Linked DNA regions of Homo sapiens: region 2 is linked to region 1. The links come from fine-mapping of genetic effects on gene expression. Tissue or cell type: aorta. Region 1 holds a variant in brackets; the other region holds the start of a gene. All regions are shown on one strand. Distances are between the middles of the regions.

What was found. PIP is the estimated chance that this variant, and not a neighbour inherited with it, causes the effect.
Region 2: it holds the start of SDF4, and the variant in region 1 is fine-mapped to the expression of SDF4 in aorta (GTEx, PIP 0.97).

Annotation. Positions count from the first base shown.
Region 1 is chr1:1,168,964-1,171,713 of GRCh38, reverse strand. MIR200BHG (MIR200B, MIR200A and MIR429 host gene) reads right to left here. Exons shown (of 2, transcript XR_007065348.1): 2 at 1,376-2,750. MIR429 (microRNA 429) reads right to left here and starts at 2,709; the gene lies at 2,627-2,709. RefSeq lists an enhancer at 341-908. The variant G/A (reference allele first, on the strand shown) is at 1,373.
Region 2 is chr1:1,230,725-1,233,224 of GRCh38, reverse strand. SDF4 (stromal cell derived factor 4) reads left to right here and starts at 1,224. Exons shown (of 7, transcript NM_016176.6): 1 at 1,224-1,333. B3GALT6 (beta-1,3-galactosyltransferase 6) reads right to left here and starts at 988. Exons shown (of 1, transcript NM_080605.4): 1 at 1-988. The coding sequence starts at 946. RefSeq lists enhancers at 1-588, 589-1,270 and a silencer at 887-1,746.

The sequences.
Region 1 (2,750 bases):
TGGTGCGGAGCAGACCCAGGAGGCCCCTCTGCCCTCTGGGAGCCTCAGGTCAGGTGGCAGGTGGGGCTGGGGCAGGTCCTGGGCTGAGTGGCTGGGCCTTCGGGGAGCAGGGCCCACTTGGTGGGGGTGACGGGTGGGGGGTTCCTTCGGTGGCTGCTGTGGCTCTCCAGGCTGGGAGCAGCAGATCCGGGTTCGGAAGCTCTGACTCTGGGAAGGGGCCTACGTGTGTCCCCTCCTCCCTGAGGCTGAGGCAGGTGGCCTGACAGGAGCTGATGGGGATGGGAAGGACTCGCCCAGCTCCTCTCCAGAACTGGCCCTTCCGGGAACAGAGCAAGGCAGGGTCCTTGCCCCTGGGCTGGGAGGGAGAGCCCCGTGTTCATCTTTGTGGCGCACCGGCCTTTGGAGGATGTGATCTGGACACACACCTCGGAGGACGGGTTTCCTTGTGTGGGGGGAGAGGGGGTGCAGCGGGCAGGTCCCCCAACCCCTGCAGCCTCCCCTCCCTGGGGCCCCACACAGGCCTGAGGACTCCCCACCGCCCTCAGAAGCCCCCAGGCTCCCCAGCCAGGCACTACCTCGTCCCTCACAGCTTTCCTGAGTTCAAACTTGAAAACTCTGCCCCTTAATCCCAAAATCTGGGTGGTGTGGCAGCCACGGATACCTGTAGCCCCAGCAAGGTTCCTGCGCAGGGCAGGTGGGAGCAGGACCTTGGGCCGTGGGTGTGCCCGGCCCGCGTGTCCAGGTGGGTGCAGCCCCCAGGGCCAGGCAGAATGGGGGAGGCCTGGCACCTCTCGGGCAGTGGGTGGGGTCTCCAGGCAGGCCAGGCCCTGCCACTGGAAGGGAGGTGGCCCCTTTGCCACCAACCTGTGGCTGTCACCGGGGCAGGTGTGGCTGGACCAGGAAGCCCTCCTGGCTGGCGCCTGGCTGCCTCCATCCTGTCCGCAGCCCTCGCTCCTGCTGGCCGGCACCATACGCTCTTGGTCACCTGCTCAGAGAGGCCCCCCAGGGCCACCGGCTGCCCCCTCGGTAGCTCCCTTCAGCACAGGCTGAGGTGTCTCCACTCAGGGACTCCCCCTTCCCCCAGAACCTTGACCTGAGCTGACCACAGGAGAGTCAGGGAAGATTCCTGAGCAAAAGAAGGAGGGAGGGAGGGACGGAGAGAGGAGGAGGAGGGAGGAGGGGGAAGGAGGGATGGAGGAGAGGAAGGAGGAGGGGGAGGGAAAGAGGAGGGAAGGGAGGGAGGGAGCCTCTCCCAGGAACCTTGGGGGCCTCCGGGGCCGGATGCAGTGTCTGGGGTTCTGTCCTCAGCTGGGCCCTTTGCACGGCGGGGGTCTGTGCACGTGTGGTTAAAATAAGGAGCTGGTCCAAGCAT[G/A]GGTGCGTGAACTGCAGACTTTATTACTATACAAAGACTTTTTTCTGTTTTGTTCCCGGTGCTTATGGAGAGGAGGAGGAGGAGGAGAAACCGCACAGGGAGGCTCTGGGTACGGCCCCGCCAGCCCCAGCAGGGTCCTTCCTGTCACACCCCGTGCAACGCAGCAGGCGCTGTGGAGAGTGAGCCCCACTGCAGTGTGGGGCGCAACTTCATCCGAGGGGTGCTTGGAGGGACTGGCCAGACGGGCACAGCGGTGAGGAGGTGCTGGGATGGGGAAGGTCCCCGAGCTCCGGGCGGTGTTGGATGAGCTCAGGCTCACAGGTGTGGCCCTGCCTGGCCCGAGCTCTCCAGGTGTGTCCAAACCTTGTGTTATATGCACCTTGCAGTCCAGGGCTCACCCGTGCGGTCTGGTGAGGTGGACGCCACATTCTGGGGGTGGCACTCCAAGTTCTTCCCCACACACGTCGCTCAGGCGGCAGCAGCATGGGGGTGGTTTCAGCTGGCCCTGCGGGGGACTGCCCCATCTCCCCAGGGAGGAAAGAGGGTCTGGAGATAGCCCCGGGTGGGGGAGGTCAACCTGCAGATCCCGGCTTGGGGACAGCTCCAGATGACACCTCGTGAGCCGCCTGGGGTGGAGGGGCCCCCAGTGCAGGGCTGCGTGGCCCCAAGCACCTGCCTTCCCTATCCCATGGTCTTGCAGCTGGGCACCGGCCCCGCCCGCCTCAGCCCCAGAGATGGGCCCTGGAGGGAGAGTGTGGTCTGCATCCCACGGCTGGCCCCTGGAGGAGGAGGGCCAGGGCTGGCCCCGGGAACCTCCCAGAGGTCTCTGCGTCCTGCTGCCTGGCCGCTGAGACGCTGTGACATTGTCCCTGCTGGGCATTTGTGCTCCTCCGTGCCCTGGGCTCAGGCACTTTGGGGGGCCCAGCTGCTTCTGTCTCAGCCTCCCCAGGTGGCGAGGGGGCTGGGGCTGTGGGGTGGGGCTCCGGGTATCTGTGACTGTGACCCCAGGGGCCAGGCTGATAGCACGGGGTCCACAGCATCTGCCCGGGGACTACAGCTCGAGGGCCCCAGGAGGCCGGGTGGGCACAGGCCATGGCGAGGGTGGGGCACAAGAGCCCCAGACCCCGGCGGCTTTGCACTGATGGGCTGCGGATGGGCACAGGCCATAGTGAGGGGGGCATGAGAGCCCCAGACCGGGCGGCTTTGCACTGATGAGCTGCAGGGCAGGCAGCTCTCTCCTCTAACGGTGATCAGGCAGCGGATGGACGGTTTTACCAGACAGTATTAGACAGAGGGCCAGGTCTAACCATGTCTGGTAAGACGCCCATCGGCCGGCGGTGGTGTGGGTGGCCTCCGGGTCCTGGGCTGGTGTCTGCGG
Region 2 (2,500 bases), 62 kb before region 1:
CGGACCAGTCGTACACGTAGGACAGGCGCAGCTGCACCTCGCGCTTGCACAGGCGGCCCTCGCGCGCCAGCGTCGCGTGCTTCTCCAGCATGTCCTCCAGGCTCTGCTTGTGCGTCACCAGGTACTGGTTGCTGCAGCCGCGGGACCGGTATTCGGTGTCGAAGCGCGGGTCGTGCTCCCGCTGGACGTCCACCGGCGCCAGCCAGGCGCCCAGAGACACGTCCTCGCTGTGCCAGGCGCGCAGGTAGTCGCGGCTGAGGCGCAGGTAGTGCACCAGGTCGGCCGAGAGCACGTAGCCGCCGCCCAGCGCGTAGGGCAGGTAGTAGTCGCAGAGTTGCCAGGCGGCCTCGCGCCAGCGCCCCCCCGGCTTGACGCGGCCGCGGCCCGAGAAGAAGCCCCAGTAGAGGCGGCGGCGGCGCGCGGGCTCGCGGGCGCGCAGCTCGGCCAGCAGCGCGTCCAGCCGCGCGAAGGAGTCGTCGTCCGCCTTGAGCACGAACTCGAAGGCCACGTGCTCGTCCAGCCAGGCCAGCATGGCCAGCACCTTGGCCGTGAGGTTTTCGTAGGCGTCGCGCAGCGCGGGCAGCAGCAGCAGGTCCCCGTGCCGCGCCTGCTCCCGCTCCAGGGCGCGCCGCTCCTCGGCGCCCAGGCCGGCCGTGCCCACGGCAAAGCGCGCCCACACGTCGCCCGGGGCCCCGCGCCGCGCAAGCCACGTGCTGCGGATCACGCTGCGGCGCTCGGCGGCGCGGGGCGCGCTGGCCACCAGCACTGCCAGGAAGGCGGCGGCGCGCGCGGGCGCGGGGGGAGGCGGGCTGCGGCCCGACATCGCCCTGGGGTCCCCGGGCTCGGCCGCGCAGCGCGCCAGGTAGAGCAGCGCCGCCCCGCACAGCGCCAGCGTGCCCAGGCCTAGCGCCGCCCGCCGCCGCCACGCCCGCCGCAGCAGCTTCATGGCGCCCGCGCCGGGCCGGCGGCCCAGGCCGGACTCGCGAGTGCGCAGGCGCCGCCGGCTCGGGGCGGTGCGCGTGCGCACGGCGCTCCTGGGAGCGCGCCGGGGCCTTCCGCAGACGCCGAGCCCCGGGGCGCTCGGAGGCCGGCGGCCAATCGGCGGCCGTCACGTGGCCTCGGGCACCCTTGTCATTGGTCAACCTCGGAGCGGCCCCGCGACCGCTTCCGCCCGGAGGAGAGATGGTGGCGCCGGCGTCCCCTCCGTGAGGTCGCGCCCGTTCGCACCGCCCCCGCCCGCAAGAAAGATGGCAGTGGCCTGATCCGGGCCCGTTGGCGGCGTCACTGACGCTTCGCTCCGGTCCTCGGATCCCGAGCGCGGGGAGGCAGACCGGTGAGTGAGGGGCCCGGGACGGCCGCTGCAGGCCGCGGGGCCAAGTGTACGCCGGCCGGACGGCGAGGGCGGGTCTGGAGGCCGCCGCCGCCTCCCGCCTTGGGCTGGGGCATCGTCCGTCCGCTCGGCCTTGAGCCCTGGCGAGACTCCGCCGCCACCGGGGCTCCCGGGGTTCCCGGGGGCAGGGACAGGCCGACGACGCTGGCCTCCCCGGCCGCCGGCACGTCTGGTCTCCTACTGGCCAAAACCTACGAATGCCACCGGGAAACGGAGGCCCAAGGGGTCTGGTTGGACTCGCGTTTATCGGCGAGGCGACCTTGGACAAGCTGCCCCGCTTCCCTGCGCCTGCGCTTCCGCTTCTGAACCGCGTGGACCCTCATCCCCAGTTAGTAGGATTTGGAGATGTGAAGTCGGCTGTGTGGAGCCCTTGATGTCTGGCTCAGAGGCGGTGTTATGAACCCTGTTGAGCTTTTAGAATCTAACCGTGTGTGTTGTTAACTGCCAGAAATAGCCTCGTTCCACCAGAGCTGAAGCCCAGGGATGGCAAAGAAATAGCGTCTCTGCCTAAGCTGTTTCCCACGTCCGTTTTGCAAGGGTGTGTTGATTCCTTGCTGGGAACTGAGCTGCTAGGGGATGGCGAAGTCGAAACCCCATTCCGGTGGGACCGGCCCGCTCCGCTGTGCTGCGAACCTGGCACACCGTGATGAATAGATACTCTGAAGCCAGGAGAGGAAGCGCCACTTGATGGACTCCTGATATTTATAGTTACTTTTGGGTTACTTTTTATTCCCCCTTTTTCGAGACAGGGTCTTATCTTTTTGTTTTTGTTTTTTAAAGAGACGCAGTCTCACTGTGTTGCCCAGGCTGGTCTCACGATCCTCCTGCCTCAAGTAAACCGTGTAACTCATCAAGATATGTAGAATCAAGAACTAGCTTTATTTTCTCTAGGAACAAAGTACAGTCTCTTTGCACACAGCGTGTGTTTTACGACTGTAGTTAGTGGAGTCAGCACCAGGAGGAGGTGTCTTGGTTCTTATCCAGGACTCTCCCCTGGTCAGGCGATCTGGGACGACAGGAATAGAATTATGCCACCACTAGGGAAGGGAAAAGCCCTCAGCCATGTTCAGAAAATCAGGCCGGGTGCATGGCTCACGCCTATAGTCCCAG